Linked DNA regions of Homo sapiens: all the other regions are reported to be linked to region 3. The links are microRNA targets in miRTarBase. Many come from high-throughput screens and were not tested one by one. Region 3 holds a microRNA gene; each other region holds the end of a gene's coding sequence.
Evidence for each region. The annotated mature microRNA hsa-miR-4422 reads AAAAGCAUCAGGAAGUACCCA and lies in region 3 at 2,781-2,801, opposite strand. An mRNA with a match to its seed (bases 2 to 7 or 8) in the 3' UTR can be bound and repressed. Matches are read on the target gene's strand: a 7mer-m8 pairs with bases 2 to 8, a 7mer-A1 pairs with bases 2 to 7 and ends in A, and an 8mer does both.

Region 1: the mRNA of SDR16C5 is a reported target of hsa-miR-4422. Seed matches in the 3' UTR shown: 7mer-m8 at 1,714-1,720.
Region 2: miRTarBase lists HOXB8 as a target of hsa-miR-4422. Seed matches in the 3' UTR shown: 7mer-A1 at 1,129-1,135.

Annotation. Positions count from the first base shown.
Region 1 is chr8:56,298,025-56,302,238 of GRCh38, reverse strand. It overlaps SDR16C5 (short chain dehydrogenase/reductase family 16C member 5), which reads left to right. Exons shown (of 7, transcript NM_138969.4): 7 at 666-2,234. The coding sequence ends at 759. Among named protein-coding and RNA genes, the nearest start is that of SDR16C5, 20 kb to the left of the region's middle.
Region 2 is chr17:48,609,389-48,613,593 of GRCh38, reverse strand. It overlaps HOXB8 (homeobox B8), which reads left to right. Exons shown (of 2, transcript NM_024016.4): 2 at 85-1,248. The coding sequence ends at 392. HOXB7 (homeobox B7) reads left to right here and starts at 2,577. Exons shown (of 2, transcript NM_004502.4): 1 at 2,577-3,075. The coding sequence starts at 2,676. RefSeq lists a silencer at 1,401-1,450 and enhancers at 1,244-2,064, 2,065-2,884, 2,885-3,705.
Region 3 is chr1:55,224,280-55,228,456 of GRCh38, reverse strand. It overlaps MIR4422 (microRNA 4422), which reads right to left and starts at 2,816; the gene lies at 2,734-2,816. The region is part of intron 1 of MIR4422HG (MIR4422 host gene); the gene reads right to left.

The DNA of each region.
Region 1 (4,214 bases), not on the chromosome of region 3:
CTTTACCCCCACCTTAGGATGAGTCTCAGGTTTCCCGTGCCTGCTTTGTTTCCTTGCTCTGCAGTATTGAATGCAAAGGCCAGTGGAGCAGAGTGCTCTGTTGGGATGATGATCATGCATGTATATGGCTTTGCAGAGGGGCAGGTGTGGATGGAGAAGATGGACAGTGTTAGTTGGGTCTTGCCCAAGGTTTGAGGAGCTATTGCATCTCATCCTCACAGTAGCGCCAGAAAGGCAGACTGATGACCTCATTTTACAGTTGAGGAAACTGAGGTCTATGAGCTGAGTCGATTGCCTAAGGCGGCACTGCAAATGACAGAGCTAGGATTCCAGCCAGGCTCATCTGCCCCCAAAGCGCATGCCTACAGGACAAGACTTCACTGCTTCCTCTGTGTCATTGTACAGTGGAGTGATGCTTTGGAAACCGAAATGAGAAGTGAATTGAATAACTTAAGCCAGAAGACCTGTCAAGGCCCTGGGCGAGTGTCCCCGGATATAGTGAACAAGGCCCAGTGACCCTGAGGCGGGTAGCACTCAGGCTGCATAGTGTGTGCATGAGTGAGTGACTTCATCTGCCACAAGAGGTGACACTGCTTTTCAGTAGAGGTGGTAAAGAGGCTTTCATGAATGATAATAAAGAAAGTTTATTCTTGTGTTCTCTTTAGCTTTTTGCCCCTCAAGACAGGACTGCTTATAGCTGACTATTTGGGCATCCTTCATGCAATGGATGGCTTTGTTGACCAAAAGAAGAAGCTCTAAAGACCAACTCTATGGCTAAGGTCATCTGATACACAGTGTTACATAATGCGTACTTCAATGAAGAAAAGTATTTTTGTCTGACAGTGGAATATATCTGGAGACCACAAGTACCACTCCTATTCTGTTATCTGGACTAGAATTTTCAATCAATGTGTTTGAAAATAATGTTGCTATCACCTATTTGGTTGAGTTTTGGTTTTTTCTTTTTCTTTTTTTTTCCAAAAATAAAGACAGCCCATTTTTGTCATTTCCATTACCACAGATGTAAGAAAGTGATAAGCCATGGCCATGAGCTGCCCTGAGCTTTGGTCGTTGGGGAGGTGGCTCAAATGGAGCCAGCGGCTGTGGTTGACCTGCCTTGGGGAGCAGGGCTGAGGGGCGAAGAGGACATGTGGATATCCAGCCAGAATGCCCTCTCTCCAGAGGACACACAGCTCTGGATTTCTACCCCCTTGCTATCCTCTCTGGCCATTTTGAACCTGTACCACCTAATGTAGAAAAGGCCCGCCTCCAGTGCCCTTCTTTCCAAAACAGCTACACAAATGCTTCTGAATGCCCTGGATACGCAGACCGAGTGGCAGTCTGGCTAAAGGCCCATCCAGCACTATTGTGCCCAAGAGCCTTACCGGGCATTCCCTGAAGCCCCCTCATAGGCAGTGATCCTAGACCAAACTCTTAAATAGAATCACTTTTGTTTCCTAGAAGAGATCAAAGAGTGGTTGCTTCTTACTTTGAAGATGAAATTATACCAAGTTAGGTTTTTTGCTATCTATTGATCCAAAAAATATATTCGTGCAATTAAAGTTAAGTGTTCAACTTAGTATTTCAAGTTGGGATTCAGGTTGAGGCATTTTCCTGCAGAATGGGCAATTTTATGCATTTATATTCATCAGTGCTGCCCTCACTTTGGATCTATTGTATTCTTACAGTTTAATCAACTGGCAAAGTGCTTTCATGCTTTGGAGATTAACTATAAAAGCAAGATTAAGAAAAATATGTTAATTACCATATCCCTGGAACTCCTTCTCAGGCTGGTGGGGGCAGCCTTGCAAGAGAAACAGCAGCCTTTGTCTCTTCCCTCTTGTGGGGAGCAAGGAGGGGATGAGCGGTACCTTGGGAGACCCGGTAAAAGTCTAAAGAATTGAGAATTTGACTATCTTGGGGGTAAAATGCTGTCATAGGGGCAGCAGTCTCAGGGGGTGTAAACTCTGGAATCCACTATGGTTTACCTTGAGTGGCCTGCACGAACATGACAGCCCTGATCTGTATTTCCTTTCCATTCAGAAAACCTTAAAAAAAAAAAACTTGTTTTATGATAATATTATAACAATCATAACTAACATTTACTGTGCCCGGCAGCAAATTAAGTATTTGACAAACATTATTTCATTAAACGAGACTGTCAATCATTACTCAAAGAATGATGAAGGTATTTGGTGTATGCCAAAGAATAAAGGCGTTTTATTTCACAGTGACATCTTATTCCACTGTAGATGTATACTGAGAGGATCAAAGGCCCTCTCAGAGTCACCCACTGATGTTCCAAATCCTTGGTTAACAAGGTTAATTAAGAGAGAAGCACAATATTGCTGTAATATTACAATTCCAGAAGCGTATCTTCTAGGGTCCTGTCTATTTAGTTAAAGAATAAAGCTCAGACTCTTCGGGGATTCAGTACAACAAAGGTCCAGGAGCACTGCAGGCATCCTCCACATCATAACAGCATTAATAGCAATTATTTCTAATTGGAGTGCATCTTGGCTGGACTGCGACAAAGGCCTGAAATTCAATTGTGGTTTTAAAATACCCATAAAATTGTCTAAACAAATTCAGATTTACTTGAGATGCTTCTATGAGAAGAGACCACATGTAAATTAGTGGATTCTAGAGGGCACTAAATAACAAGGTGATTTAATGCCCTGGGGAGCAAGGAGTGCTCTTGGCATGTGTGTCATGCCCGTTTCCATCAAAATTTAGTCCTAATGAAGCCATGACCAAGAGCCCAACACCTAAGCCAGGCTGAGGAAACAGAAGGACACAGGGCCAGGGCTGTGCCCCATGCCTGGGCATTCTGCCCTGCAGGGCGCATCTTCCAGCATCTTGTACTCACTGAGCTGCTCCAAAGCAGAGAAGAATTCTTGGTGTAAGATGGAGTTTTGCTGGGTAAAAATGTGTGTCATGCCGTGTGTGTGTGTGTGTGTGTGTGTGTGTGTGTGTGTGGTTTTACATTGTGATGCTGTCTTAGTCCATTAGGGCCACCATAACAAAATGCCACAAATTGAGTACTTTAAACAACAGAAATTTAATTCTCAGAATTCTGGAAGCTAGGAGTTCAAGATCAAGGTGCCAGCTGGTTCATTTTCTGGTGAGGGCTCTCTTGCTGGCTTGTGGAGAACTTCTTGCTGTGTCTTCACAGAGTCTTTCCTTGGTGTGTGTGTGTGGAGAGAGAGAGAGAAAGACATATTTCTTCTTCTAAGGACACCAGTTCCATCATAAGGGCTCTACTTTCTTGACCTCATCTAACCCTAATTACCTCCCAAAGTCCCACATCATCCCATATGAATTTTGGGGTAACACAGACATGCAGTCCATAACAGATGCCAAGATAGAAAAAAACCAGACCACAAATGACATTTACACTCCTTAGAGTCCTCATGCTGAGATGGTCACAGTTCATCAGATGAAATAATTCTGAATCTTGGAGGCAGAGTGAATTGAGAATGCCTGAAAGAAATTAATTCCAACCTGCCAGAGTCAGCACTTGAGAAAAATATGACTGAAAATCTGGGCCACCAGACAAAAACTGTTGTGAAGCCAGACGTCCCATGCAGAGCAGCTCTGGGACGAACATGTCTGGTGCTAGGCACCCTCAACATTCCAGGCTCATGAACCATGTTGGACCGGGAGCAGGGCTCACATATGTAATTCCAGCTCTTTGGGAGGCCAAGGCAGGAGGATAGCTTGAGGCCAGGAATTCAAGACCAGCCTGGGCAACACAGCAAGACCCTGTTTCTACAAAAAATTTAAATATTAGCCCGATGTGGTGGTGCACACTTGTAGTCCCAGCTACTCAGGAGGCTAAGGTAGGAGGATTGCTGGAGCCCAGGAGTTCAAGGCAGCAGTGAGCTATGATCACACCACTGTACCCCAACCTGGGTGACAGAGTGAGACTTTGTCTCTAAAATATTAAATAAAAAATAAGTAAAATGCAGCCTCAGGTAATTTGTCCATCTCTTTGATTCACATTGGCTTCTAAGCCCCCCAGCTTTCATGTCTACCATGTCATGGTGATTTTTATGGAAAGATCCCCAGGGATTTCATTCCTCATGAGATTTTATTTCTCATGACTGACATTATTAATCTCTCAAGCAGGTGGTCCTGGTGACACTTCTACCTACTGGTCTCTTCTGCTGTTCACTCCTTAAATTGTTTGTGTTCTTCAAGTTTCTATCTTT
Region 2 (4,205 bases), not on the chromosome of region 3:
TTCACGAATCTTCCAACCTTCTCCGTCCCTGCCCCCTCCCCCACCCTCCCCTCCCCTCTGTCTCGCCCTTTCCCCCATTCCCAGCAGCCGCCGGACGCAGGCGAGGCCGACAGACCTACAGCCGCTACCAGACCCTGGAGCTGGAGAAGGAGTTCCTATTTAATCCCTATCTGACTCGTAAGCGGCGAATCGAGGTATCGCACGCCCTGGGACTGACAGAGAGACAGGTCAAAATCTGGTTCCAGAACCGGAGGATGAAGTGGAAAAAAGAGAACAACAAAGACAAGTTCCCCAGCAGCAAATGCGAGCAGGAGGAGCTGGAGAAACAGAAGCTGGAGCGGGCCCCAGAGGCGGCGGACGAGGGCGACGCGCAGAAGGGCGACAAGAAGTAGGCTTCAGCTGGGACTGCCAGGGCCGCGGCCGCCCGCACGTCCGCGGGTCCCGGCCGCGCCGCCGCCGCGCGCCCCTGCCCGAGAGAGCTCTGGCCCCGCTAGCGGGGCCAGGAGCCGGGCCTCCCACCGCAGCGTCCCCCGCCGCGCCAGTCCCCGCTAGTGGTAGTATCTCGTAATAGCTTCTGTGTGTGAGCTACCGTGGATCTCCTTCCCTTCTCTTGGGGGCCGGGGGGAAAGAAAAGGATTTAAGCAAAGGCTCCCTCGCCCTGTGAGGGCGAGCGGCAAAGGCCCGGCTGAGCCCCCCATGCCCCTCCCCTCCCCGTGTAAAAAGCCTCCTTGTGCAATTGTCTTTTTTTTCCTTTGAACGTGCTTCTTTGTAATGACCAAGGTACCGATTTCTGCTAAGTTCTCCCAACAACATGAAACTGCCTATTCACGCCGTAATTCTTTCTGTCTCCCTTCTCTCTCTCTCTCTCGCTCGCTCGCTCTCGCTCTCGCTCTCTCTCGCTGCGTCCTCATTTCCCCTCCCAATCCTCTCTCCCCTCTGCAACCCCCCAGCTCGCTGGCTTTCTCTCTGGCTTCTCTCTTTTCCTCCTCCACCCACCCCCTTTGGTTTGACAATTTTGTCTTAAGTGTTTCTCAAAAGAGGTTACTTTAGTTAGCATGCGCGCTGTGGGCAATTGTTACAAGTGTTCTTAGGTTTACTGTGAAGAGAATGTATTCTGTATCCGTGAATTGCTTTATGGGGGGGAGGGAGGGCTAATTATATATTTTGTTGTTCCTCTATACTTTGTTCTGTTGTCTGCGCCTGAAAAGGGCGGAAGAGTTACAATAAAGTTTACAAGCGAGAACCCGAGACTGGCCCGGCCAGCGCTCCTCATTTGCTCCCGGGTGCCTTGCAGAGCCGGTGGGGAGCCTGTCACCGGGCTCCTGCGCCTGCTGAGGCTAGGCTGCAGAGAGGAGGGGGCGGGGGCTGGAGGCAGGTGGTGCGAGTCCCTCGGCCCAGGGGCGCTGGGGGTGAGGGAGGCGGCTGAGCCTGATTGGAGGAGAGAAAAACGAGGGAGGGGAGCCAAGAGAAACCCCCTCCTCTCGCGTTCCGAGGCTGCCCGGCCAGGGAGGCCAGGGCGCCCAGGCCACGCTGGAGACCTGCGGCTGGGCTGGTGGCTGTGTCCCCCGCCACCTCCCTCTTTGTTTTGCTGTGTGTCCTCCCAAGATGTGTGTCGGGAGGTGGGGTGGGGGGCAGGCATAAAGGTGGAGTGCAGGCCTGCTGAGCATACTTTTTTTCCCTCGGACTGTTGTTGTTGGGGGAGCAGGAGGAGAAGGGAGACCGCTCTTCCCTGCCTCTCCCTCTCAGGGACTTGGCCACCTTCGCTCTGTTCTGAGGCCATGGCTCTCTGCCTTCCTTCCTTCGCTGCCTCTGCTTCTCTGGTAGTCACGCTCCACTGAGGCATCCGCCTCCGGGAACCGGGAGAGCAGCGCGCCCGGGCCAACCTCCACCCTTCCTTTCTCTCCCCACCCTCCCAACCCCCTTTTTCTTTTACTTTCAAACCTTTTTTTTTCTTTTTCTTTCTTTCTTTCTTTTTTTTTTTGCCACCAGAAACGGCAGCGTCCAAGGCCCGTGGGCTGGATCCTGTGCCCTAGGAGCACCTAGGAAGACTTGCTCCATCTCCGCCCGCATATCTGGGGCACCAAGAGAGACAGAGTCGTGAGCCAGGCTCGCCTCATTCCTCGTCTTGGGAGAACCGGACCAACTTCCCCAAAAGGCCTTGCCGTGCAGAATTGGCCTGGTTTAATAAAGAACAGACCTGCCCCAAGCACCCACCCACCCAGTTGCGTGCATTCAATCCCTGCGTTTGTCTCTCGCTCGGTAACGGGCTGAAGAGGATGGGTGGAGGGTGACACGGATCGCCCCGAGGTTATTTATTTTCCCTTCCACTCAATCTCTTCCTCCCCAAATCTCGCCTGCAAGCGGCCTCCAGCCCGCGGGAGTCGGCAGCGGCCCTTGAGCCCCCAGCCCCAATCCACAGGGCTCGGCTTTCCCATTCATTATTGATCATATTTTATAAATCCAACGCCACACAATTTTTTCCACATTACCGGGAGCCGTGGGGAGACGGCCCGGCCATTGGCGGAGGGGACGTCACGTGGGCGGGGTCACGTGGTCCGGAGAGGAAAAAGGGGGTCCTTTTTGGTGTAAATCTGGACTCTAATTCTGTAATATATCAAGGAATCTCGTAAAACCGACACTAAAACGTCCCTGCCTACAAATCATCCGGCCAAATTATGAGTTCATTGTATTATGCGAATACTTTATTTTCTAAATATCCAGCCTCAAGTTCGGTTTTCGCTACCGGAGCCTTCCCAGAACAAACTTCTTGTGCGTTTGCTTCCAACCCCCAGCGCCCGGGCTATGGAGCGGGTTCGGGCGCTTCCTTCGCCGCCTCGATGCAGGGCTTGTACCCCGGCGGGGGGGGCATGGCGGGCCAGAGCGCGGCCGGCGTCTACGCGGCCGGCTATGGGCTCGAGCCGAGTTCCTTCAACATGCACTGCGCGCCCTTTGAGCAGAACCTCTCCGGGGTGTGTCCCGGCGACTCCGCCAAGGCGGCGGGCGCCAAGGAGCAGAGGGACTCGGACTTGGCGGCCGAGAGTAACTTCCGGATCTACCCCTGGATGCGAAGCTCAGGTAACGCCGCGCACCGAGCTGTCCTGAGCCCCAGGGGCCGGGGCACATTACCCTGAAGGCGCCTCCTTCCCGGCTGGGCGCCCCTTTCCGCGTCCAGAGTGCTCCCAGCCGGAGGTCGGCCCTGGAAGGCTGCACCCACTGGGCCGCGACCCAGCAGGCCATCCCCGCCCCCATATTTGCTCGGTGCTCTCAGGCTCGCTCTGCTTCCCGGCGGATCTCTCTTCGCCGGCACCACGGCGCTGCGAGCCCCCAGCCCGCCCCCACCCTTCCTCTCGGCCTTTTAGCTTTAAATATTTATCAGCAGCGCCGGCACGGGCTGGAGACGAGGCCGTTTGTCTTGCGGAGGAAGGCCGGTGTTTGCAGAGAATAGCCATTAGGGTCTCCCCCTTCTCCCCCCTTCCCAGCTAAGGATCTCAGCCCTGGGTGTGTCCCCCTGCCCCACTCGGATAAGGTATGGGGGAGGGGGCCATAGCGCTAAGCAATTCTCCCCTCCCCCTTCCTCTCCAGCCAACCCCGCTCCCCCATTATTCCCATCAGGACAATTAGAGGTGGGCTCTAGAGGCCTGGCGGGAGGAGAAAAGGACCCAGCCAGGGACACAGAGCTAGAGAGGCAGGTGGAGGGAGGGGGCTGAGGCCAAAGGAGATGATCCTCCTGATCCCAGTGAACCTGGGTGGGGGAGTGGAACAGGAGAACTAGAAAGGGGCAGAGGCTTCATGGGAGTGCAGCTGGCTTCCTGAGGTGCTCTTCCTAGGGCTCCTAGGAACCCCTAAAGAACTGGCCAAGTTTGGAGGTGTCATTCCAGATAAGTGACCCTTTTCTTGGGGGAGGGGCTAGGACTCTCTGGAGCCAATTCAAAAATTAGAGAGTGCAGTTCACCTAGCCAGCTGCTGCAGAACCCCAAGAGGCTGAGGTTCCATGGGGTCCCTGCCGAGTCTGACCCAGACATCCTTTTCTGCACTGTTCCAAAGCAGACGAACTTAGGGGCTAGCCCCAAAGTCCAGAAGACCCAAGACTCATGGTCAGAGGCACCCAACCCAGCAATGGTCAGGGGCCAGAAGCAGCCCAGCTCTCATACCATCAGTATTAGTGGTTATAGGTCCCATTACCTGCTCCATAGTTTAACTGCCTT
Region 3 (4,177 bases):
GGCCAGGAGATCGAGACCATCCTGGCAAACATGGTAAAACCTCATCTCTACTAAAAATACAAAAATTAGGTGGTTGGGGTGGCACGTGCCTATAATCCCAGCTACTTGGGAGGCTGAGGCATGAGAATCACTTGAACCCAGGAGGCGGAGGTTGCAGTGAGCAAAGATCATGCCACTGCACTCCAGCCTGGCAACAGAGCGAGACTCCATCTCAAAAAAAAATGATAAAATGAAGTAAATAATAAAAAATTAAAAAAATAAAACTAATTGCTCTCTTTCCCCAATATTATCGTTTTTCTGTTTTTTTATTTTAAGACAGAGTCTCACTCTGCCGCCCAGGCTGGAGTGCAGTGGCGTAGTCTCAGCGCACTGCAACCTCTGCCTCCCGGGTTCACGCCATTCTCCTACCTCAGCCTCCTGAGTAGCTGGGACTACAGGCGCCTGCCACCATGCCTGGCTAATTTTTTGTATTTTTAGTAGAGATGGGGTTTCACCATGTTAGCCAGGATGGTCTTGATCTCCTGACCTCATAATCCGCCCGCCTCGGCCTACCAAAGTGCTGGGATTACAGGCGTGAGCCACCGTGCCTGGCCACTATGCTTTAAAAGAAAACATTAGCAAGCTGAATCCCAGTACCATATATAATGAATTATACACCTCGACCAAGTGGGATTTACTCCAGGAATGCAAGGTTGGTTTAATATCTGAAAATCAATTAATGCAACACATCATATCAACAGAATTCTTTTAATGACATGATTATCTCAATAGATGAAGAAAAAGCATTTGGAGACAAAGATCCAATACCTTTCATGATAAAAAAATAATAATAAGGAAAAAAAGAACAAAAGAGACCTCTCTCAACTTGATACAGGCATCCATGAAAAACCCACAGCTAACATCATTCTCAATGGTGAAAGACCGGGTATTTTCCCCATAAGATCAGTAGCAAGACATGGATGGCTGCTCTTACCACCTCCATTCTACACTCTACTGGAGGTTCTAGTCAGGGCAATTAGGCAAGAAAAATAAATAAAAGACAACCAGATTGGAAAGATATATTATCTTATATATCATTAATATACAAGATAACAACATGATCTTGCGTATTAAAAATCCTAAGGAATTCACAAAAACTATTATAAATAATAAACAAATTCAGCAAGGTTGCAGGTTACAAAATCAATACATAAAATTCAATTGTATGTTTATACACTTGCAATGAACAATTCAAAAGTGAAATTAAGAGAACAATTCCATTTATAATAGCACCAAAAGGTAAAATATTTAGAAACAAATGTCCTGAAGAAGGACAAGACTTGACCGGGTGTGGTGGCTCATGCCTGTAATCCCAGCACTTTGGGAGGCCAAGGAGGGTAAATCACTTGAGGTCAGGAGTTCGAGACCAGCCTGACCAACACGGTGAAACCCCGCCTCTACTAAAAAAAAAAAAAAAAAATACAAACACCGGGCACAGTGGCTCACACCTGTAATCCTAGTATTTTGGGAGGCTGAGGCGGGCGGATGACCTGAAGTTGGGAGTTCGAGACCAGCCTGAACAATATGGAGAAACCCCACCTCTACTAAAAATACAAAATTAGCCAGGCGTGGTGGCAGGCACCTGTAATCCCAGCTACTCAGGAGGCTAAAGCAGGAGAATCACTTGAACCCTGGAGGCAGAGGTCACAGTGAGCCAAGATCACACCATTGCACTCCAGCCTGGGCAACAAGAGCAAAACTCCATCTCAAAAAAAAAAAAAGTCAGATACTTAATACTTATTACTAAGTATTAGAGAAGATGTGTAGAAATCAAAACCCTCATACACAGCTGGTGGGAATATAAAATTGGAAAACAATTTGGCAGTTCCTCAAAAAATTAAATATAGAATTAACATTTGACCCGCAATCCAAGTCCTAGGTTTATGTCCAAGAGAAATGAAAACATATATCTACACAAAAACTTTTACTTAAATGTTTATAGCATCATTCATAATACCCAAAAGTTGGAAACAACTCAAATGTCCATCATGAATAGATAAACAAAATATCCATATAATGGAATACTATTCAGCCATAAAATGGAATGATGTACTAATGCATGCTACAACATGAATAAATCTTGTAAAGGTATGCTAAGTGAAAGAAGCAGACTCAAAAGATCACATAAGATTCCATTTATATGAATTTTCTAGAGTAGGCAAATCTATAGAGACCAAAAGTAGATTAGTGGTTGCTTATCTCTGGGGGCGTTGGGGGAAACAGGGAAATGGGAGAGTGATAGCTAAAGGCTACAGAGTTTCCTTTTAGGTGATGAAAATGTTCTGAAATTGCCAACAGTGATAGTTGCACATATCTGTGAATGCATTGAAAACTAGAATCGTACATTTTAAATGGGTAAATTGTATGGTATGTAAATTATACATCTCAAGAAAGCTGTTACCAAAAAAAGTCAATACTCAATTAGAGTATTCAAGGTATGAACATTGATGACAATTTTCTGGTTGCCTTTTTTTTTTTTTTTTTTTTTTTTAGAAAAAACAAACATATAGTATATAATGGATATAGATTTGTATCCATCAAAATCCAGTACATTAAATATCATTTTACTTTGCTTTTTCTGAAACTAATTAAAACTCACCTGAACCTTCATTTGCCAAAATATCGAGACATTGAATTACAGTTTTAATTAGGGCTCCCCCACTTACCTTCCAGGAGGATTTATTCAGGTTGCAGGGCTCCTCTGCAATCAAGAGCATCAAGAAGGGCCCACTGGTACATGGTGGGTACTTCCTGATGCTTTTGTCTGCAGAAGAACTGGTTAACTGGTTAATACTGGTTAACAGTGAAAGGACAACAGTCTAAGCTTGCATAGGCTAAAGTACTTTGAGGAAAGGTGGTTCTGGGGCTCCTCTGCCCTGCCCTGCTAGAGACTGAGGGATTTTCTGAGACTAGAAGTCCTGGGACCCAACCAGTCACTTCTCTTTGAGCTCTTTCTACTCCCCTGGCCACTGTGAGCCAGCAATACAGATCAGCTTGCTTAAGACCATCCCTCCTACTGAGAACAACTAGAAAAGCTGGGAAGAATACAGGAAATACCAGTTTGAAGGCACTGGAAAGTTTCTAAGAAAACGTGAACTCAAAGGACCAATCCCAAAGAGAAAGGAAGTACAGAGAGGTGAACCCATCATTTGGTATTGCTTTTCCTTTAATGTTTTTGCTGATTCCTAATCAGCAACTGAGAAGCCCAAAAGCTGAAGAGAGCTTACAGGGCTGAGATGACAAGAATTGGAGATCAGGAGCCATTAAAGAGGAGGTACTCTGGTAAGCACCATAGGATTTCATTTGATATGGTAATATGTTACATAGCTGGCTGCTAGTGAACCAAACCTTCCAGGATTTATGCCTATGGGTGGTCCTCTTCACATTGGTTTCGGGCTTAGCCATATAATTTGTTTTCTTTTGTTTGTGTCTTGAGAGATGGGGGTCTGGCTACATTGCCCAGGCTGGAGTGCAGTATTCACAGGTGTGATCATAGCACACTCCCTCCTCAATCTCCTGGCCTCAAGCAACCCTCCTGTCTCAGCCTCCTGAGTAGGTGAGAGTACAGGTGTACACCACTGCATCTGGCTTATGTGATTTGTTTTTATCAATAGTACATTAGTAAAGGTGAAACAAACAAAGATTAAATATGAACTTGCTCACTGGGACTTGTACTTTTGGATTTCTCCCTGTTAGAATCTAGCCTCCATGCTTAAGTCAAGGTTATCCCAGTGGAGAAATAGGCCATGTGGAGAGGCCCTCGGGGATGGAATATTGTATAGAGATGCCATGTGAAAACTTACTAAAATGCCCCAGCCAAGTGCCCAGCTGAATGCAGCTTTACGAATGATCCCAGCCAATACCAAATGAAGAACTGTTCAGTCGACCCAGATAATTGCCAGAAATCACTATTGTTTTAAGCCACAAATATTGAAGTGGTTTGAGATACAGCAATGAACAACTAAACCAGTTGGGAACCCTAAAGAATCCTACAAGTAAGATGGGCCAAAAATAGACTAGCCCTCACAAAGACTGAGGTCCAGAAACCCACAGAAACCCTCCTAATCCCTGATTGAATTAAGTTGCTTTTTTTTTTTTTTTTTTTGAGGCGGAGTCTTATGTGTTGCCCAAGCTGGAG